Homo sapiens: one gene and its partners. The protein of the gene in region 1 purifies or fractionates together with the protein of each later gene. This does not show direct contact. Each region holds a gene or a part of one and is shown in the gene's direction. Other genes may lie near its edges.

Region 1 (3,500 bases):
CCCACAATGCGGGCTTCTGTGATAACAGTTGTTTGTGTCAGCAGTAGGCACTTGCTTGCAGATCAGCATGTTGAAGACTGGGACCACCTCTGAGTGTACCCTGGGCTGGGCATGGCAGAGACAGAACCAACAGGGACTCCATCATGAAGACCCTTTGGCTCAGGACCTTTGGAGAGAATTGCTTTTTCCATCCTCAGGCATTAGCAATGGGGAGACAAATGTGCCCTGCCTCTGGGCTGTGGGGTGGTCTCTGCCCAGTAGACTTGGGCATAGTTGTAGGGCTGTCCCCATAGGAAGGGCTCAGCAAAGGCATATCCCCAGGAGAGCCCTAAAGACCTTCAAGAGGAGATCCCACAATGAGGCTTTTCTTGGTGCCTAGAAAAATAAGTAATACAAATACAAATCGTAACAAGAACTCTGAAGATGTTATTAACAAAGGCCTGAGTGCAGAAAGAAGGAGGATCTTGCATGTACCTATGCGCACACCAAAGCACCTGTCTGTCAAGGCCCACGCAGTCTTAAGCACATACACACAGTCAACTACACACACTGACGGCACACTCACACATTCACAGACAATTTAAGATTAGTCTCAGATGAGCACACACTAACACACTCATCCAGTGGTGAGCTTGGGAGAGTGAGGAGGAATTCCGGCCTTTGAGCCATGCTTGTTTGGTGTCAGGAGGGACTTGGGATTCAGGGGCTCAGCCACTGCCCTGTCTGCCCACCACCTAGTTTCAGCAGACAAACCCCCATTTTGGAGATCCCTGGAGGCAGGCTGGGGATGAGAGGAATGATGCAGCCCCCTGTGTCCTGCCCAGGTCAGCATCGGCTGCCCAGAGAAGATGGAGCCCATCACCAAGATCTCGCATATCCCAGCCAGCCGCTGGGCTCTGTCCTGCAGCCTCTGCAAGGAATGCACAGGCACCTGCATCCAGGTATGTGGCCTACTTCACCTCCTGCTGCCAGGAGCTGGCTGAGAGGCATGCTTGGGGCCTCAGACAGCAGCTGCCACCACCTTCTCCCCTCCATGGGGCTGCAGACTGATGGGCCCCAGAGGGGTGTGGGACTGGGGCCAGAGTCAGAATCGCACCTGTTGGGGAGCATTTCTCCATCCCCTGGTCTTCTAGGGAGTGGGAACAGACCCGGGGAACCAAGGCTCACCACCCCATTGGAGTGCTGAGAACTCTGGCTTTCCCTGAAAGCAAGTGTCTTGGGGCTTGATGAATACATTAGCCTCACTTCTGACATTGAATTTGACGCGTTAGGGGTTAGGAATCAAACTTCTCATCTAGCTAAGCTAATAGACTGTCCTGACACTGGAAGGGCTGTACCAGTCTGTCTTTAGCAAAGCCTATTCCCAAAGTCTAGCATGCGTCAGAATTACCTGGAGGGCTTGGTAAACATAGACTGCTGGGCCTACTCCTGAGAGGCTCTGACTCAGTAGGTCTGGAGTGAAGCTGAGAACTTGCATTTCTAACAAGCTCCCAAGGGATGTTGATGCCTCAGGTCTATAGTTTGGGAGTGCAGGGGGGAGTCATCCTTTGTCCCCCTCATCTTTTAGGAACAGAGTTGTCATTGTAAACGTTAGTTGTGCCTTCACCCATCCACGGACCTTCAAAAGGATTTGTGAGTGCAGCATCAGCAGTCATAATAGTTGGGTGCGTGATTGCTGACACAGTTATCATCATCCAAGGCTAAGAGAGAGGGTCAGGCCTCAAGCTGTCTGGATGAAAGGAGAGGGAAGGGGACTAAGTCCAGCCCCTCTTCCCAGAGGACAAAAAGGGGACCACAGTCCCCATCTTAGATGAGCCAGTGACCCATCATCAGCCTTTCTCTTGATGCTCTGTGATGCCAAAGTCATTTTGCCCACACAAAAATGCAGCTTGAGGCCAGGCACGGTGGCTCACGCCTGTAATCCCAGCACTTTGGGAGGCCGAGGCAGGTGGATCACCTGAGGTCAGGAGTTCGAGACCAGCCTGGCCAACATGGCGAAACCTCATCTCTAAAAATACAAAAACTAGGTGGTGCATGCCTGTAGCCCTAGCTACTTGGGAGGCTGAGGCAGGAGAATCGCTTGAACCTGGGAAGCGGAGGTTGCGGTGAGATGGAACCACTGCACTCCAGCCTAGCAACAGAGTGAGACTCTGTCTCAAAAAAAAAAAAATGCAGCTTGTCCCCAGAGGTGTTTCTCAACCGTCTTCTGATTGACTTCCCCAAAGCATGTGGTGTTGAATGGGTTACCTTTCCAGGCACCCCAGAGCTCCTCCTCCTCCCCTGCCGTAACTCCCATCCTGCACAGGAGGTTGGGAGCCCATGCCATTCTGTTTAGGTTCTCTCCAGCATTGCGCATTCTCAGTAGAGCCCTGGGGGAAGCCCCTCTGTCTTCTCCCCTCCCACCAGGCTCCCTCCATGTCTGATCCTGCCCCTCCTTTCCCCTCAGTGTTCCATGCCTTCCTGCGTCACAGCGTTCCATGTCACATGCGCCTTTGACCACGGCCTGGAAATGCGGACTATATTAGCAGACAACGATGAGGTCAAGTTCAAGTCATTCTGCCAGGAGCACAGTGACGGGGGCCCACGTAATGAGCCCACATCTGAGCCCACGGAACCCAGCCAGGCTGGCGAGGACCTGGAAAAGGTGACCCTGCGCAAGCAGCGGCTGCAGCAGCTAGAGGAGGACTTCTACGAGCTGGTGGAGCCGGCTGAGGTGGCTGAGCGGCTGGACCTGGCTGAGGCACTGGTCGACTTCATCTACCAGTACTGGAAGCTGAAGAGGAAAGCCAATGCCAACCAGCCGCTGCTGACCCCCAAGACCGACGAGGTGGACAACCTGGCCCAGCAGGAGCAGGACGTCCTCTACCGCCGCCTGAAGCTCTTCACCCATCTGCGGCAGGACCTAGAGAGGGTGAGTCCCCATGCCGCCTGCCCACCCCCTGCCTGGTGGGTCCAGGAGTCCTTTCCATGCCACACTCACTGCCCTGGAGCAGCTAGGACTCACCAGGACTCAAACTGTGAGCTCTGGTGGACCGGCCCTGCTGCAGGAGCCTGCCAAGGGGCTGAGGGCTTTCAGGTCCCAAAGAGTATGGGGGTGACTGACACTTTACAGAACAGAGAAGAGTCCAGTTCTTGAGTCTCCGAGTCCCTCTTGTCCTAGCCCTGTCACAGGCCTGGTGAATGGTGGGGGCCCTGCCAAGGTCATGAGGCTGAGAGCACCAGAGCTAGGGCGAGGACCTAGGCTTCTGGCACTTGCTTGCCTCTGTGGGCCCCGCCTGGTCCTAACACATGAGCTTGCATTGAGAATCTGAGGCAGAGGAGGAACTGGAGCTTCCCAAGCTGTCCCCGTAACCCATGCTGAAAGCCAGGGGCATCAAGAGCCAGGAGCAGCCAAACAGGCACGTGCCGGGCCAGGGCAGGGTAGATGGGTAAACGCGGCTCCGTGGGGTGCTGGGCAAACAGAACAGAGGCACGAAGGAGACAGGGTGGACTCAAGGAAC
Region 2 (3,515 bases), on another chromosome or scaffold:
GAACAATCTGCTTTTTTCATCATTTGTTTTATGAATTTATCCATGTTTGCTTAATGCTTCTGCTAAGTGTTAGCCAAAATCTAGCCATTTATATTTAGTTGTGTAAACCTAAATTAAATGCTGTAGTATTTTGTGGAATGTACTATATAGCAAGATACAGAGAAAATTGTTTTGGCATGTCAGAGCCTTATTTGGTTAGCAGACTGCATGTGTTGATACTTTTTTTTTCTTAAAGCCAATTATTTTGATGCAAAAGAAATTCAGTTTATAAGATAAATCTGAAAAATCCATAATGAAATAGGAGTTATAAAAAATTTATAGTGATATTAATCTTTCCATATTTCCCATTAAGCAACACTAAGCATTCATAAGTTAACCCATGGTAAAGAGTGTTTTTCTGAAACTTTTTTTTAGTAAGATGGTTTTTCAGCAAATGGCATTCCCAAGATAAAGCTGTTGTGCTTTAACTCATTTCTTTTCTTTGGTATTGGGTTATGTATGCGTGTGCATTTTTTTAACTTGAGAGCTGACTGTTGCTTAAGAAGTTTTCTTATGGCAAAAATAATGTAAATAAGTTACTATGATCTGCATTTTGCCAGAAACTCATTTATAATTAAGGCTATCATTTATTAATGATTTTTTTCTCCTTTATGATATTACATTAAAGTTGATAACTGTTATTGGTACTTTTGAAATATTTGTATGCATTTGTTACCTTTAAACATTTGGAAGAAGCACAAAAAAATAGATTTAGTTAACCCAGGGAAACATCAATTTTTTTAGTAGTTCCAATTTTATATCACAGTTTTATTTTCTTATGAAATCAAAAAATGCATTGATACTCATTAATGCAAATTCATTATTTAACATCAATATCAGAGTAATCTTCAAGGTCTGAAATGAGAAACATACTGACTTTTTAAAATTTTAACAGTGTACTTCTTAGGCTTTCATTACCAGCTCTGAAGAACTTTTTGGAATAATTCCATATTCCATAGTGTGTGGTTTATGAGTTGTGGGTTTCATCACTAACCCAGTAACCATAAGAAAAGTCTCTCTCTCTCTCTCTCTCTCTCTCTCTTTCTCTCTCCCTCTTTCTCTCTCTCTTTCGTAGGCCAGTAGCAATGTTGTGTTCACAGTCTAATTTCCAAAAGACCATCAATAAAAAAGAGAGCATGTTTAAATTGAAATGGAACTTAGAGAACTTGAGCTTACTTACGTACTTCAATGCCACCGGTAACTTAGGTTTTACCACCAAATGCTGTTAACGTTAAATCATTTTGAAAATCTTGGATGAAAGGTGCTATGTAAATGGAAATACAAAGGATTCTTACTAACATACAAAAATAATGCACAACAGAAATATCTAAAACCTTTTCCGTAGACTTTGAAACATCTCTCTCTCTCATAACTCCCTGGATTCAAGTAGCACATTGGTAATAGGTATCAGAGCAGTCTAGAGACAATTGCATGTCAAAAAATGTACATTCATTTTTAGGTGGATAAAAGTAAACATAGAAATTATGTTATGGCTAAATACAGTTAGTGGGTAACTTAGATTTATATTAGCTAGCATCTAATTTGCACAACTAGAACACATCCCAGAACAATTACTGAAAAGCTGAAATTTAATGGGTGGTGATGTAGCCCAATGAGGGCGAATGACATTACAGCTTGACCTCTCCAGAACACTAATATCCTAAAATACAGAACATGCTGGGTTAAGTGCATTAGTGCTTCAAGCAGAAAATGCTGAAAACAACGTGTAAAGTACTGAATCTGAGTAGGCTGACCCTGAGAAGGGACAATTAAAGAGACAACCAAGGGAACACATTGAGACTACAAAAATATGAATAATCTCAATTATATTCATCACACTTTTTTCATACCATTTCAAGAAACGACTAGACAGTAGTAACCACATGAATATTTTACTTTCTCCAGTATACCTTGAGAAGCAAACTTTGTAGGAAGCCACTCTTCTCCCCTAAACAACTTCTGCCAAACAATAATAAAGCCAACTGGAAACGAATCGGAGCCATTTTCATTTTCCTAACCGGGGCCTGACATGCTTTAAATTATCTGGCTGTATTCTAAATCAACACCTAACCCCTCAAGGAAACTGAAGAATCAATATACAGGGTAATAGCTTTGGCTCAGAGCTCCAATAATGTGCTTCAGATCTGTCCATGTGGAAATGCTTTCATCCAAATTTTTAAATTGGTGGTTACCAAAGAGTTCACAAAACAGGTTTGTATGTAGCACCTTTCATGCAAGGCATGCAAAAAGCCTATTTTAAAATCACTGTGCATATTATAGAGTTGTAGCCACCTCACAATGAAGTACTACAGCCTGTGCTGTCTTAATGGTTTATGTCAGGAAATGAAAAAGATACTGTACCAAATCTGGAATTACAATGGGGAGTAATAATGTATACTAAATGACTTTTGTATTTTAAGTTACTTTTTGTGAGTGGTGAATTTTTGTGTTTTTCTTTTCAGCTACACTTAGTCCTGAGATGTATTTTTTCTTTAAGTCTTGAATGAATACAAAAGGAGCCCATTTTATAATATAAACCTTGATGTACATGTTGAGATATTTGGACAATGAAAATGCCTTAAAAGGAATGCATATGGATAAAGTTGCACTTATAACACCCTTCAACAAAATCTAATTTTAAATTGTCTTTTTCTTTTCTATTAAGGGTTTTCTTTTTCAGTGTCTACCATTGTACTTATAACTGTTATTAAATACCAAATCAAATAATATAAAAGCTGTAACATTTCCTTTAAAACTAATGCTAATAAGGGATTTAGAGTTGAATGGCAAAATGTTTATTACTTGGCAATACCTGATGTCAGTCACAGGCATCCAACTCATGACAAGAGATACCACTGTTTGTTTTTTAAAAAACATTTTTCATTTTGTTTCTCCTTCAAAAATTAAGTTGGACTAACATTCACGTATCAAACTAATATAAAAAGAAATAAAACCAAGAGGTGATTTTTGTAACAACTGGTTAGTAATCATTTAAAAATGATATCATTTTAGCCAAGTGTTATTTTATTTCTTTCCATTTTCCCTAGAGAACTATCGTCAGACATAACCCATGACCTTGTTTAGTTGATTCTGTCATATCATTTTGTGATAAGTATTAGGGGTTTGGAGAGAAAGAGCATCTGTCAATTTTATCAGTCCCAAAATAGGTTTAAATGTAATCTAATAGATTGCACAAATGAATCTCCCATTTTCACTTAGACTTTGGGAGACAAAGGAACTGGCCTCATCCTTGGGCTGGTCAGTTTTTCTGGGCCTGTTTTCACTATAAGGTGGGGAGGGCAATTAGACCAGATACCTAAGGTACTTAATTTCTGTGTATTCATTAGTACCTTCATTTCATATGCAAAGCAACCTAAAACGGCTACTTTGTGTTAGAGATAGAATACCGAGTATGTAAAAACTAAGAGGAACCTTAGAATAAAGTCATTACTTTTATTTTGCCTTTTAGTAACACA
Region 3 (3,500 bases), on another chromosome or scaffold:
GAGAAAGTTCACGAGTACAACGTCCTGCTGGAGACCCTGAGCAGGACCGAAGGTGCCCCCCGCCCCCACCCCCTCCTGCCCTCTGCCCCACCCCCTCCTGCCCCCCACCCCTCCTGCACCTGAGGCTCGTTGTGCTCAGTGGGCAGCCTCAGCTCCCCTCAGGAACACAGCAGGGGCAGGGAGGCGGCACCAGACGCCCTCCCAGGGTTCCACCGGACTTGTGAGTGGGGAGGTTGCTGTGCAGGCAGGCTCTGGGAGTCGCCTGCCTGCATTGGATGAACCAAGTCTCACCGGCGCCTGCCCCCACTATGGGCACAGCTGCTGCCTTTGTCAGACCTGAGCTTCGCTGATGGGTCCTTCATTCTGGACTCGTGACCCTCCCCAAATGTGTGACTTTCCCACCCCACAAAGCTGGAGTAAAATGGAGGGTGACCCAGCAGAGAGGGGGCAGGGCAGGGGTCCAGAGTCAGCCCCCAGGGGACCTGGTGCCCCAGCTGTCACCGCCAGGCGCCACTTGGTGCGCGTGTCCCGGCGTCTCGCCTGTCTCGCCTGGAAAGGAAGCTGTGCCAACGGTCGTTTCTGCGGCGCTGCAGGACCGCGGAAGGGGGACATTTTCAGCCCAGAAATGAGAGCGAGTTTGAGCTCCCCAGCAGTGGGCGTTCTAGACAGTGGTCTGGGCAGGCAGTGCGAGGACTCCCAGCCTCATGGCGTCCTGCCTTCGGTTTTACAGAAATCCACGAGAACGTCATTAGCCCCTCGGACCTGAGCGACATCAAGGGCAGCGTCCTGCACAGCAGGCACACGGAGCTGAAGGAGAAGCTGCGCAGCATCAACCAGGGCCTGGACCGCCTGCGCAGGGTCAGCCACCAGGGCTACAGCACTGAGGCTGGTGAGTGCCCGCCCGGGACTGTTGGTTCCCGAGGGTGGGGCCGTCTCTGGTTGTGTTTTGGGGACAAGCAGGCAGGTGCTTGTAGCGACGGGAACCTGGGCCTGTGGACGCAGCGGAGACCCTCGGCGCGCTCAGTCTACCCACGGGTGGTCACAGGCCTCGCTCCCAGGAGCTGCTCCGTGAAGGTCACTCGCCGTCCCCAGCCTTGTACCTGGAGACTAGCAGAGGGCAGTGGCGGCAGCGGGCCTGGGAGCAGCCCTTCCCAGCGTCTCCCCAGCCTCAGCAGCACGGCCCCTCCCGTGCTGCTGTTGGCCAAGAACAGAGACCACTCGTCAAACATAGCTCCGTCTCCATCTCATGCCACCCACACCGTCCATCAGTCCCCCTCAGCCCGGCAGGGGCAGGACGCCCGCTGAGGCCACAGAGCTTGTGGCTCCGTCTCAGCAGCTCATCTCCCTCCACTGCAGGCCCTCAGTGGCCAGGCTCTGCACCACTGCTTCTTGCCCCGTACCCGGGCCAGAGCCTTGTGCAGGGTGTACCAGAAGCCTGCTGGCCTCACTCACGCAGCTTCCGATTCTGTACCTCATCCTCCACGTGCACACTGAGCACCAGCTGCACGCCAGGCACTGCTCTAGGCTCGAGGAGACAGCAGCCGCCAGGAGATGGCATCTGTGCCCTCATGGTGATAAGACAGCAGGGCTGGTCTCTGTCCCCGGTGCCAGGCAGAGCCACCGCCTCGTCTCCAGGATGGTCTGCCCAGAGGCAGCCTCCAGCACAGCAGTCAAATGTGTCCACGCGGGCCCAGGTCCCCTTGGGTGGCTGTGCTGCTGTCACCTGAGTGCCCTTGGGCAAGACCCCTCACCACCCACCCCCAAACCCAGGCTCCCTTAGCCTGACCTGGTGCTGGTGACTGTCAGCCGTAGGCTTTTGGCCGTAGTGCTGGGGGCTGGACCACCTTGTAGGCCTGCGATGCAGTTTGCTGAGTTCCTGTGCTGGAGAGACCCGGATGAGCCTGGCTATAGTCCATGCAGGAAAGGGCGACTCAGCCCCACACACTTCTCTTCCCACCTCGGGCTGTCCCCAAGGCAGTTGTGTCCAGCGGCTCCTGCAGTTCTCTTGCGGGTCTGCCTGGGCCTTCCAGCAAGCCCCACCAGCCCAGGGTCCTCGGGGTCCTGAGCAGGAAGGGGTCAGCAGAGGAGGGAGCAGGGGCCACTGTTGCGGGGCTCCATGGGCAGGCGGCTCTGGACTACTCACTCCTGGTTGGAGAGTGGTGACAGCCCCGGAGTCTCTCACTGCGTCCCTTCGTGAGCACCAGGGTCCAGGAGCCGTCTTGGTTTGTTTGGCTCCTCCCAGGAGCCCGAATGTTTGACTTTCACGAGCACAACATCCTGCTGGAGACCCTGAGCAGGACCGAAGGGAAACGGCCTGTGCCTGCGTCTGGACCTGGCTGAACTTGCAGGTGCCCCCACCCGAGGTCCTGGCAGCCTCTGCACACAGGCCACGTCCATCCTCTGCCTCCTGCTTCAGAGGCAGCCAGGGCGGGCTGTGGCGCTTCCCAGGCTCTGATGGAGGCAGGTGTTTCTGGACACAAAGGAGAAGCAGTTGTTTGGCCAAGGGGACAGAGAAGCCACATTTCAGCGAGGTCATGTGAGCTACTGAGCAGATGCCCTCTGTGCCCCATAAGACTTTGAGTGCACGCACCCGTGTTTCACACACATGCAGGTCGCGCCTGCAAACCCTCATAGGCTCCACGCACACTCAGCGTGGTTGCCGCGGGGCTGGCTGTGGTGTGCACCCCGGGTGCTGCTGAGGCCACTCTTGCTCCTCCCCTGCAGAGTTCGAGGAGCCCAGGGTGATTGACCTGTGGGACCTGGCGCAGTCCGCCAACCTCACGGACAAGGAGCTGGAGGCGTTCCGGGTAAGGAAACACGGCCCTCTCCTTCTAGCTCTCTCCTGTGGTGAAGATTCTCTTGCAGTTTCCGGGTAAGGAAATGCAGCCCTCTCCTCCAAGCTCTCTCTCTCAAGATTCTCGCAGTTTCTTCCTTAACCACTCGGTGAACCTGCTTGCGTTTTCCTTCTCATCTGCGTGGGAACTCGTGTTTCAGGGGCGGGGCCAGGCTCTGGAGGGAGGGGCTTTGGTTCTTTTGTCCGTGTTCACGTCTGAGCGTGGCCTTGGTGCGGGTCCTGTGGATGGTCAACAGTTGGTCGGGACCCAGCCACAGCCTGGGGGGAGGGGACCAAGGACACTACCGGGATCGTTTAGGGGTGTCACCACTTCCTGAGATGGAGGCCCAGGGAGGGAAGGAGACCACCTCAGGTGGCAGGGGCTCCTGGGGCGTGTGGAGTGCCAGATCATTCTGAGGGTGGAGAATTCATCAGCTCGGTGAGCACCCAGCAGGGCTGTGAGGAGTGGGGAGTCCATCGGGGGTCCTGGGTGGGCAGCCTTGAGTATGGTATCCGGCCATGAGTTCACCCAGGGTCCCTATAGCTGGTGTCTGTTGGGAGGGAGGTGGGTGTGGTCCTGCCCTCATAGGACTTGGGACTTTCCTGGCCCCAGGAAGGGCCCTTAGCACCTCCCCCAGAAAGGGGTCAGGAGCTTCCCTCTGGGGCT
Region 4 (3,500 bases), on another chromosome or scaffold:
ATAAAGAGAGCAAATGAGCCCAACAGCAGTGTCATCTTCAAATGCAAAGGATAATGATCTTCATAAGTCCCAAATACTCTCTTCACTAGTTTTTTGCCAACTTGAGGAAGTTCCATCATTTAGTAGATAATTATCATACGTTTTCATATTTACCCAGATGATTATCATCTGGGTAAATAGAGTTTGTGCTTTAAAAGGACAGTGTTTTAAAGTTTGTGCTTTAACTTTAAAAGGGCACCCAGAATGTGATGGGAGTTAGTACTGCTGACATCAGTTAAGGTAGCTACTCAAGAGGTTTTTTTGAACGTTGATGCATTAAACCTATACTAAAAGTGTCAAATTTATACTATTTCAAAATGAAATTTATATTCCTTATATCATTTTTCTGTCTGCCTTTCTGTGTATTAAAATGTAATCTTTAATGAAGTTTAAATTTAGTTATATAATATTTTTAGGAAGCTTTAAGACAATTCAGGATTTCCACTATAAGGCAGATTTAATACATAAATATTATTTATTGAGTAGCATTCTTCTAAGAGTCAGTTTAATGCTATATTCTTCGTTATATATTAAGTTCTTCAAATTGAAATAAAGACCTGAAATTTTTTCTAGTTCATGTATTAATCTGGGGACAGTTAACATGTGAGCTCTTTTTTTATATGTAGACAATCAGGATGGCTGGGATGGCAAACAAGAAAATGAGGAGCGACTTTTTGGGAGCCAGGAAATCATGACTGAGAAAGATATGGAATTATTTCGTGATATCCAAGAACAAGCACTGCAGGTAAAGTTGGATATTCAGGTTAGACAATCAAGCAACTTGTTCATGGCTGAGAAACAGCAGATTAATTACATTGTGGGTTAAGCAGTAACAGCAGTTTGCCTAATCTCAGAATAGTTGTGGTTTGTGTGTATATGTAGTTCTGCTGTTTATAATATTCCTTTCAAACCCATGATAACTGCTTTGGTTTTGCAGATAAGCACATGGCTTTGACTATCAATATTAAATAAGCTTGGTTTATTTTTTGTCTTACTGTATGAAGAAGAATTTGGGATTTGACCAAAAACAAACAAAAAACAAGCTTCTCATGAGTGATAAAACACCTATATTTATTAATTCAAGAAGTATTTCATGCCTGTAATCCTAGCACTTTGCCAAGGTGGGTGGATTGCTTGAGTCTGGGAGTTTGAGACCAGCTGGGGCAAAATGGCAAAACCCCATCTCAAAAAAAAAATAGAAAAATTAGCCAGGTATGTTGGTGCACACCTGTAGTCACAGCTATTTAGGAGGCTGAGGCAGGAGAATTGCTTGAGCTGGGGAAATGGAGGTTGCAGTGACCTGAGATCATGCCACTGTACTCCAGCCTGGGTGACAGAGTGAGACCCTGTCTTCCAAAAAAAAAAAAATTGCAATTCTTTGTGACACATGGCAAGATCGTAAATATATAGACAGAGTCTATGTGCCACATGCTGGAGATGCCAGTGAATGACTGAATTCTTTCCCTGAACTATAGGAGAGATTTGTGAATAAGTAATGTCATTAATATGAAAAGTTCAATTATAGAATACTTGATGTTTTGGGAGAATAGGGAAGCCAGCTTCTACTTCTGCCTGGGGAGGTCAGAGGAGGATTCATTGAGGGGCCTTAAAGGATATGTAGGAGTTGTACATATCCCTTAAAGGGATATGTAGGGAGTTGGTTCTTATATAATCAGAAGGAACAGAAGTGAAGGTGGAATAGACTTGAAGATAGGGGAAAACATGCTTAATTGTGGGAATTAAAATGGCTCAGGATAAAGAATATAGGGTGTGGAGAATGGCAGGAGGTGAGGTTGGAAAAGTGCAGGGGCTAGATCATAAAGGCTCTTCCAGATTATGTTCATTTATTTTTTGTCTTTTCCTTCTTTGCCACCAACAAATGTACCATGTAAGCCAAGTTCTCTTTTATCTTGAAAAGAAGAATTTCTAGGCTGGGCACGGTGGCTCACCCCTGTAATCCCAGCACATTGGGAGGCCGAGGCGGGTGGATCACTTGAGGTCAGGAATTCGAGACCAGCCTGGCCAGCATGGTGAAACCCCGTCTCTACTAAAAATACAAAAATTAGCCGGTGGCACACGCCTGTGGTCCCAGCTACTCGGGAGGCTGAGGCAGAAGAATCACTTGAATCCGGGAGGTGGAGGTTGCAGTGAGCCGAGATCGTGCCACACCACTCCAGCCTGGGCAACAGAGTGAGACTCCATCTCAAAAAAAAAAAAAAATTCTAAGGCTGATGCCGAGGGTTCTAGGGAAAACTCTTCATATTAAGAGACCCAGTGGTGGTGAATAGACTGTTGATGTCGGTCATTATGTGAGTACTTTTGGAAAAATAAAACAGCAGTACAAATACTCAGCACGCATTTACTCAGCATTCTGCTGTATTATGATTTAACAAAATATTGGCTTTGATTCAGGTGGATCTGGGTTCAAGTCTTGATCTGTCATTTACTAACTTCTCCTTTGGGCAGGTTGCCCTCAAAGCTTGTTTCCTTTCATGCTAGTGAGTTATTATAGGTACTCTAGTAGAAATCTACATGGACTTCAGTGGGAACTGAAAGGAGGCAGTAGTTATGTTCTTCCTGACTGAAAGAATTTTTTTTTCTCCTCCCGAGTAAGTTGCAGACATAATGTGTTAATATCCCTTTACTCCTAATTTTTTGTGTGTATTTCCTAAAAACAGAAATGTTCTCATACATGACCATGGTCCAATCATCAAATCAGGAATTTAACACAAATTAAGTACTATTATCTAATTTAGTTGTCACGTCTCTCTAGTCTCCTTCCAATTGGGAACAGTTCCTCAGTCTTTATCTTTCATGACCTTGACAGTTTTGAAGTGCACAGGTCATTTATAGAATGTCATCACTTTGAGCTTGTTTTATTTTTCATGATTAGAAAATTCCACAGGTGTGCTGTGTCCTCCTCAGTGTGTCACATCAGAAGGCATGTAATATCCAAGTTCTCATCACAAGTGCTGCTAACAGTGACCACCTGGTTTAGGTGGTATCCATGTTTCTTCTCTAACATTGCTTTCTACCTATAATTAAGTATCTTGGGGGGACATACTTTGAGACAGAAATGCAGATAACCTGTTTTTCATCAAACTTTTATCTACCACATTTAGCATCCAGAGATGATTTTTGCCTGAATCATTTACTTTGTTGGTGGCCAAACATTATTTTCTAATTCTATCATTTCTTTGCCATTTATTAATTGGCATTCTATTGTAAGGAGAAGCTTTTTCTTCTTCCTATTTGTTTATTCATTTTGTTTAAACTCATAGATTATTTTATGGTTATAATCCATTGCTATTAGTATTTATTTTGATGCTTAAATTGTTCCAAATTTAGGCAGAGGGGAACTCCTTTCTAGAAGCTCCTCTGTCCTTTTAACACATCATCATCATTTTTATTTACTTCTGGCCACAGCAAGATGTTCTAGGCTCTTACTGTTGTAGCCATAG
Region 5 (4,004 bases), on another chromosome or scaffold:
CGGGCTGCGCCCCCGGCCAGGCCGGGCGGGCTGGCGGGCGGCGCGGGGGGAGCGGGGCTGGGCGGCGCTGCCTCGGGCTCTGTGCGCTGCAGCCCGGAGCCGAGGAGGAGGAGGCGGAGGAGGAGAAGGAGGCGGCGGCGGTGGGTCCCGGGCGGGGGGAGCGCGGCGCTGCGGACCCGGGCGGCTGGCAAAGGACGAGGCGGAGGCTGAGGAAGGCAGCGGGGAGACCCAGGCTGCAGCAACAAAGGGCAGCGAGCGATTGGCCGGGCTGCAGGCGAGGTTAGCCGGGGACCCGGGTGGCCGGAGGCAGCGGCGAGCGGTGCACGTGCTTGCAGACACGGGCGAGTGTGGAGCCGGGGGGTGCACGCCCGGTGGGTAGGGGCTTGCTCCCCCGAGGCATGGGATGGCGAGGAGGCTGCAGCGACATCGTTCTGCCTGCACCCGGCCTGGGGCTGGCAGGGTAGGGGTGTGTTGGGGGGGGAAGGATGCGAGCCAGGGGGCGGGCGAGTAGTCGCCCGGGACGGGACGGGACGGGAGAGAGGGTGGAGGAGGGGGCGGGATGGAACGCTCCGGGCGGCGCGCCCGTCCGCACACTCCACCGAAGGAGCTGGCGACTGAGAACCTCGAATTTTAACTTCGCGTGCCCGCCCGCGCGCGCCCGCCCGCGCCCACCCCTAAATCCTGCGGCCGCCGCCAGCGATCAGCTCTCACACAAACTTTAGCTGCGGGCTAGGGGGTTTGGGGTTGAGTGGGGGAGGGGAGAGGGAAAAGGCCTCCTGATTGGCGTCGTCTGCAGCCAATAAGGCTACGCTCCTCTGCTGCGAGTAGACCCAATCCTTTCCTAGAGGTGGAGGGGGCGGGTAGGTGGAAGTAGAGGTGGCGCGGTATCTAGGAGAGAGAAAAAGGGCTGGACCAATAGGTGCCCGGAAGAGGCGGACCCAGCGGTCTGTTGATTGGTATTGGCAGTGGACCCTCCCCCGGGGTGGTGCCGGAGGGGGGGATGATGGGTCGAGGGGTGTGTTTATGTGGAAGCGAGATGACCGGCAGGAACCTGCCCCAATGGGCTGCAGAGTGGTTAGTGAGTGGGTGACAGACAGACCCGTAGGCCAACGGGTGGCCTTAAGTGTCTTTGGTCTCCTCCAATGGAGCAGCGGCGGGGCGGGACCGCGACTCGGGTTTAATGAGACTCCATTGGGCTGTAATCAGTGTCATGTCGGATTCATGTCAACGACAACAACAGGGGGACACAAAATGGCGGCGGCTTAGCTCCTACCCCTGGCGGCGGCGGCAGCGGTGGCGGAGGCGACGGCACCTCCTCCAGGCGGCAGCCGCAGTTTCTCAGGCAGCGGCAGCGCCCCCGGCAGGCGCGGTGGCGGTGGCGCGCAGCCAGGTCTGTCACCCACCCCGCGCGTTCCCAGGGGGAGGAGACTGGGCGGGAGGGGGGAACAGACGGGGGGGGATTCAGGGGCTTGCGACGCCCCTCCCACAGGCCTCTGCGCGAGGGTCACCGCGGGGCCGCTCGGGGTCAGGCTGCCCCTGAGCGTGACGGTAGGGGGCGGGGGAAAGGGGAGGAGGGACAGGCCCCGCCCCTCGGCAGGGCTCTAGGGCAAGGGGGCGGGGCTCGAGGGCGGAGGGGGGCGGGGCGGGATCGGGTGGGGGCGGGGTTCGGGGAGTCGGAAGGCGGGGGCTGAGAGGGAATTTCTGAGTGGGAGTGAACTGGTAGGAGCGGTGGGGGGCCGGCGAGGGTGTGAGGAAGACTAGTGAGGGTTGGGTGGGAGGAGAAGCTGAAGGTGTAGAAGCAGGTGCAGAGGGAGAGTTAGGGAGGGATGCAATTTGAGAGAAGTGGAAGGCGGACCGAGGGGTGTGTGAGGGCAGGTGAGATGATACCGAAGGCGAGATTGCAGTTGTCTGGGCGCAGAGTAGGTGGGTTTGGGTGTGGTGGATGTGGAGTAGAGTTGAAGCGGTGCAGAGTGTTGGGTTTGGGGAGGCGTTGAGGGGTTTGGGGAGGCATTGAGGCGCATGTGAGGAGCAGGTACGATTGCAGTGATGGGAAAGAGGTATCTGGGTGGATCGCATGTTGGAATAAGAAGGAGGTTTGCTAGCTTTGGGGTATGAAGTATTTTTTAAAAACGTGGAAGGATGGGATGGTTGTGCTTGGGAGAGTTTCTGAAAGATGATGCTAAGACAGCAGAGCAAACTTAAATATGAAGGAAGGGGAGAGAGGCTGCTTAGAACTTGCAAAATCTGTGGCAGAAAATCTCCTGGGGACAAGGGATTGGTAGGGGTGGGACAAGGCGGCAGGTGTGAAGAAAGTGGGTGGAGCTGTACAGTAATTTTCGGTGAATGTGATTTGGTGGACTGTGCCAGGGGTGAGGATGGGGCAGAGAAAGGTGTTAGTTTGGGAGACAAGTTGTTTGATAGGCTGTATTTATTATTTTTTATAAAAATGAGAAAAGGGTCTCACTATGTTGCCCAGGCTGGTCTCGAACTCCTGGCCTCAAGTGATCTGCCCACCTCTGCCTGACTGATGGGATTACAGACGTGAGCTATGGCGACCCGTGATACGCTGGATTCATTATGTTAAACTTGATCTGGAGTCTTCAAGGGAGTGTCCGGCAGCAGGGTATCCCAGGAAGAGACATGCACCATACCTTGGGATAGGACATTTTGCATAGCTTTGAATTTGCTAGTACTTTGCTGTGGGCAGAGTGCAGGGAGTGGTAGGAGATGACCAGGCAAAGGCAGAGGAGGGGTTAGATTACAAATGGTGTCCTATGCCCCATGAAGGAGTTTAAGCCCTGTAATTGGTAGAAGGTGTTGGGACGTGTTAAAGAGAGTGTTAGACAGAAGTTGTGAAGGGGTAGTGATAAAGAATTACAGATGTGGGAAATAGGAAATGAAGACCAACGAACCAAGTATGTTTGGGGTTGGAGGTACCAAGGAAATTCAGGGTAGAGCATATGAGGGCCCCTCCTATATGGACAGAAGGTGGAAATAGCAAATGGAAATTAGTTGTGTTCGAACAGTCTTAGTTCTATGGGGCCCCAAGAAGGTTTTTTGTGTTTTTTTTTTTTTAAAGTGCATTCTTCCTGTCTTACTTGTATACCCTAGATTTTTTGGCATAGCCTTGAAATAAAACACTCCATTTTTTTCTTACTCATAAGTTCTTTTTTTTTTTTTTTTTTTTTTTGAGACGGAGTCTCAGTCTGTCGCCCAGGCTGGAGTGCAGTGGCGCCATCTCGGCTCACTGCAAGCTCCGCCTCCCGGGTTCACGCCATTGTCCTGCCTCAGCCTCCGGAGTAGCTGGGACTACAGGCGCCTGCCACCACGCCCCGCTAATTTTTTGTATATTTAGTAGAGACGGGGTTTCACCGTGTTAGCCAGGATGGTCTCGAACTCTTGACCTTGTGATCTGCCCGCCTCGGCCTCCCAAAGTGCTGGGATTACAGGCGTGAGCCACCGCGCCCGGCCATTCATAAGTTCTTTACACATTTATCAGAATGAATTTGGACAGTATTTTATGTTTTTAAGAAGGAAAGGATAATGCACATGTTTTTTCTTTTCCGAGAACTTCTACTGAGAGTTAAAGGTTGGAGTGGTGAAGTGATGGTTTAAAAAAAAAAAAAAAGAAAAGAAAAGAGAGAGACAGAGGAAGATTTTAACATTAAAAGAGGAATTTAGGGAATGGCTGATGGTCATGACACGGTCGGCAGAGGAAGTTTTGCTTACTAGCCACACTTAGGCTTCTGAGTAGAGTGGATATTATGTCATTGCTATTATAGCATGTGTTTATTTCACACACTGCTTTTGAAGATTGGGTGGAAACTGTCAGATGTGAGGCATAGCATGAATGAAAGGTAAATAGCATGAGTATTAGAAAGTAGATGAGGAAGTTTAATAATTTTAATGTGCTTCATAAGCTCTCATGGACTTTCACGTATCAATTAGTAAAAGACGTAACTAAGTGATCTGGCTTTCAGTCTCCTAGTTCTCTACAGTGTACC
Region 6 (3,500 bases), on another chromosome or scaffold:
AACTCCCAGACCTCCTGGACTCACCAGTCTCTGCCACTGCTCCACATCTAAGCTGAGCTGAAGCCAAAACCCACAGTTATGAAGGTGGCAACTTTGCCCATGTCCTTGCACTCAATATTTTATTATCCATTAAAAGAGAATTTTAGCCCGTGATTTTACCTTTCTCAGTCTTCCCCCTGTCCCACCCCACCCCAAGCTTATAGTAGGTATTTTTTTTTCTTTATGTAACAGGGAAGTTAATTTTTTTTTTTTTCGAGGTGGAGTTTTGCTCTTGTTCCCCAGGCTGGAGTGCAATGGTGCAGTCTCAGCTCACTAAAACCTCTGCCTCCCGGGTTCAAGCGATTCTCCTGCCTCAGCCTCCCAAGTAGCTAGGATTACAGGCGTCTGCCACCATGCCTGGCTAATTTTTGTATTTTTAGTAGAGATGGGATTTTACCATGTTGGTCAGGCTGGTCTCAAACTCCTGAACTCAGGTGATCCACCTGCCTCAGCCTCCCAAAGTGCTGGGATTACAGGTGTGAGCCACCATGCCTGGCCCAGGGAAGTTAATTCTACTGATACAACCCATTAGATCTGGCATTTTGAGTAGTTAAGCATGCTTCAAGGCCAAGCTGTGTAGGCAGTGATGGTTTAACAAGATTTTAGCTAAGAAAGAAACTGCAGTGAGGATGTCTTGCATAGACACGCAACGCTGTAATTGTGTTCCCTTTGTCTTATATAAAGCATAATCGTTGTTTTTTCTTTACCTGATTCCGTCATTGCTGTGATTCAGACAATCTCTGAGTTCGAAAAAGAGATAGAACTACTTCAGGCACAGAAGATAGATGTGGAGAAACATGTGCAGTCACAAAAACGGGAAATGAGAGGTAATAAAAATATGAGTCTCTTAGTCCATGGGTGCAGACTGAATTTATCATAGCTGTGTCGCTGCTAAGGAAACGTGTCCTTTGGTATGAATTTGGTTGGACATATGGTAGATTGCTTAGTTGATAGGTTGAATAGCTAGTTGGTTGAATACCTGGAAGATTGGTTAGTTGGTTGATTGGATAGCTGGTGAGTTATTTAGCTGGAGACTGTGAAGCTAGAAAACTGGGCCCTGGAAAGGGAATGGGAAAAGATAAATCATCCACAAATGTAATATATACAACTCTGCCTTTCCCTTTCAGAAAAGATGTCAGAGATCACCAAACAACTTCTCGAAAGCTATGACATTGAAGATGTAAGAAGCAGGTAATCATTTTTGCATTATCAAACATTTTAAGACATGTAAACATGTAAAACGTGACAGAGATGATAGATTTTCTTATCTTCCTTATTTTGCAGGCTCTCTGTGGAAGATCTGGAACATTTAAATGAGGATGGAGAACTTTGGTTTGCTTATGAAGGACTAAAGAAAGCAACACGGTTAGAAATTCTCCTCAGGGATCTTCTTTATTTTTCAGAGATAATAAATAGACTATTGGAAAGTCCAAAGTTTACCTTACATAGATTGATACACAAATTCCTTATAGTAGAATGACTGAATAACCACTAGAAATATTTCTCTGAGAAGTAAGTAAGTAGCTTATTCATGAAGAGCAATCTCTTTGTGGGATAAAATGCCTAGTAAAAAACCCCATAACCCATACAGTGAAAACTGATTATCAAATAAGTTAGTTAATGTTGCCAGAAATATGTAGATACATTTAAATTTAAGGCATGTGCTGCATTTATTTAAATTAATAAACTTTATTTTTCACAGCAGTTTTAGGTTCACATCAAAGTTGAGCAGAAATACAGAGAGTTCCCATATATCCCTGCCACCACACACACACAACCTCCCCCACTGTCAACTTCCCAAACCACAGTGATGTGTTTACTATGACTGGTGAACCAACACTGACACGCCACTGTCACCTCAAGTCTATAGTTTACATTAGAGTTCACTCTTGGTGTACATTCTGTAGGTTTTGACAAATGTATAATGACTCGTATCCACAACTGTAGTATCATACAGAACATGTTTTGTTTTGTTTTGTTTCTGAGATGGAGTCTCGCTCTGTTACCCAGGCTGGAGTGCAGTGGCAAGATCTTGGCTCACCGCAACCTCCACCTCCAGGTTTCAAGCGATTTGCGTGCCTCAGCCTCCCAAGTAGCTGGAACTACAGGCATGCGCTACCACACCTGGCTAATTTTTGTATTTTTAGTAGAGACGGGATTTCACCATGTTGTCTAGGCTGGTCTCAAACTCCTGACCTCAAGTGATCCGCCCACCTCGGCCTCCCAAAATCCTGGGATTACAGGTGTGAGCCACTGCGTCTGGCCAGTATTTTTTAAACTATTAAGAGTGTAAAAATATAATAACTTCTAAAATTTTCTTCATTGTTAACTACATATTAACCCCCACATAATGCTTCCTAACTAGCTAGAAGATTTTATAATTAGGCATTCCTGATTCTGTAGCCTGTAACCGTGAGTGCATAAGTAAACTTGATGTACTTCGTGCACGGCTCTTGTTGTGGGTCTTCATAACTGCCTCCCAGCAGTCCATAAAACAGAACAAAGGCCATGTGGTTTATTTCTTGACCCCTCCTTTAATAGTGTTTTGGAGAGCCATTTCCAGTCTCAGAAGGATTGCTATGAAAAGGAGATTGAAGCTTTGAACTTCAAAGTGGTGCATCTCAGTCAAGAAATCAACCACCTGCAGAAGTTATTCAGAGAAGAAAATGACATCAATGAAAGCATCCGTCATGAAGTTACCAGGCTAACATCAGAGAACATGGTATGGTCTCAGCCAGGGGCCCCAGTCGTGGCCATCATACTAGAGTTGTTCTTTGTCAGTGGCGTCAAATTCAGTTTCTTGGCAGTAAAAGAGTGGATATAAATTACTTTTTCCAGAAGTGAAATAACTTGGTCTGGTGATTAAACTATAAAATGACTGCAGACCAGAGAGCACTCTGATACAAGAGTGTGTGTGTTCACCACAGGATGGCTGCAGGCGCTGTGATTGTCTGTGTGTGCGCGTAAGTGTGTATGTTTTAAAGCCTGTATATTTAAATCAAGCCCTAACCCCTTGGAAAGTGACCACAAAATTGAAGGGTAGCTCTTGAGACAGGAGTGTGTCAGAAGGCCAGTCCTGCTCATGCCTGAAATCTCACCTTTTTTTTTTTTTTTTTTGAGATGAAGTCTCACTCTGTTGCCCAGGCTGGAGTGCAATGGCATGATCTCAGCTCACTGCAACCTCCGCCTCCCAGGTTCAAGCAATTCTCCTGCCTCAGCCTCCCGAGTAGCTGGGATTACAGGCGCCCACCATCACGGTCAGCTAATTTTGCATTTTTAGTAGAGACAGGGTTTCACTATGTGGGCAAGGCTAGTCTCGAACTCCTGACCTCGTGATCCGCCTGCCTCAGCCTCCCAAAGTGGCATAAGCCACCGTGCCCGGCCTTCAAATCTCACCTTTTCAAGGGCTTCCTCTTCCATGACGTGCATTCCTAGCCACTGCATTTGTCTCATTCTTTCTT

What was found.
Region 2: the proteins of JADE2 (region 1) and CCDC88A purify together in Homo sapiens (affinity purification with mass spectrometry; 3 studies listed by BioGRID and IntAct, with this or other methods). This does not show direct contact.
Region 3: the proteins of JADE2 (region 1) and LRPAP1 purify together in Homo sapiens (affinity purification with mass spectrometry; one large-scale study listed by BioGRID and IntAct). This does not show direct contact.
Region 4: the proteins of JADE2 (region 1) and KAT6A purify together in Homo sapiens (affinity purification with mass spectrometry, with the first as the bait; one large-scale study listed by BioGRID). This does not show direct contact.
Region 5: the proteins of JADE2 (region 1) and KAT6B purify together in Homo sapiens (affinity purification with mass spectrometry, with the first as the bait; one large-scale study listed by BioGRID). This does not show direct contact.
Region 6: the proteins of JADE2 (region 1) and MYO5C purify together in Homo sapiens (affinity purification with mass spectrometry; 3 studies listed by BioGRID and IntAct, with this or other methods). This does not show direct contact.

The regions. Positions count from the first base shown.
Region 1 is NC_000005.10:134,563,670-134,567,169, forward strand, and holds part of JADE2 (E3 ubiquitin-protein ligase Jade-2), read left to right. Parts: intron 1-824; coding exon 825-941; intron 942-2,446; coding exon 2,447-2,911; intron 2,912-3,500. UniProt on the Homo sapiens protein: Scaffold subunit of some HBO1 complexes, which have a histone H4 acetyltransferase activity. Acts as an E3 ubiquitin-protein ligase mediating the ubiquitination and subsequent proteasomal degradation of target protein histone demethylase KDM1A.
Region 2 is NC_000002.12:55,287,342-55,290,856, reverse strand, and holds the end of CCDC88A (girdin), read left to right. Parts: 3' UTR 1-3,015; downstream 3,016-3,515. UniProt on the Homo sapiens protein: Bifunctional modulator of guanine nucleotide-binding proteins (G proteins). Acts as a non-receptor guanine nucleotide exchange factor which binds to and activates guanine nucleotide-binding protein G(i) alpha subunits.
Region 3 is NC_000004.12:3,515,423-3,518,922, reverse strand, and holds part of LRPAP1 (alpha-2-macroglobulin receptor-associated protein precursor), read left to right. Parts: coding exon 1-52; intron 53-730; coding exon 731-889; intron 890-2,724; coding exon 2,725-2,807; intron 2,808-3,500. UniProt on the Homo sapiens protein: Molecular chaperone for LDL receptor-related proteins that may regulate their ligand binding activity along the secretory pathway.
Region 4 is NC_000008.11:41,971,988-41,975,487, reverse strand, and holds part of KAT6A (histone acetyltransferase KAT6A), read left to right. Parts: intron 1-665; coding exon 666-784; intron 785-3,500. UniProt on the Homo sapiens protein: Histone acetyltransferase that acetylates lysine residues in histone H3 and histone H4 (in vitro). Component of the MOZ/MORF complex which has a histone H3 acetyltransferase activity. May act as a transcriptional coactivator for RUNX1 and RUNX2.
Region 5 is NC_000010.11:74,825,396-74,829,399, forward strand, and holds the start of KAT6B (histone acetyltransferase KAT6B), read left to right. Parts: upstream 1-1,204; 5' UTR 1,205-1,390; intron 1,391-4,004. UniProt on the Homo sapiens protein: Histone acetyltransferase which may be involved in both positive and negative regulation of transcription. Required for RUNX2-dependent transcriptional activation. May be involved in cerebral cortex development.
Region 6 is NC_000015.10:52,222,805-52,226,304, reverse strand, and holds part of MYO5C (unconventional myosin-Vc), read left to right. Parts: intron 1-746; exon of another isoform or gene 747-772; coding exon 773-866; exon of another isoform or gene 867-1,096; intron 1,097-1,166; coding exon 1,167-1,230; intron 1,231-1,323; coding exon 1,324-1,404; intron 1,405-2,580; coding exon 2,581-2,761; intron 2,762-3,500. UniProt on the Homo sapiens protein: May be involved in transferrin trafficking. Likely to power actin-based membrane trafficking in many physiologically crucial tissues.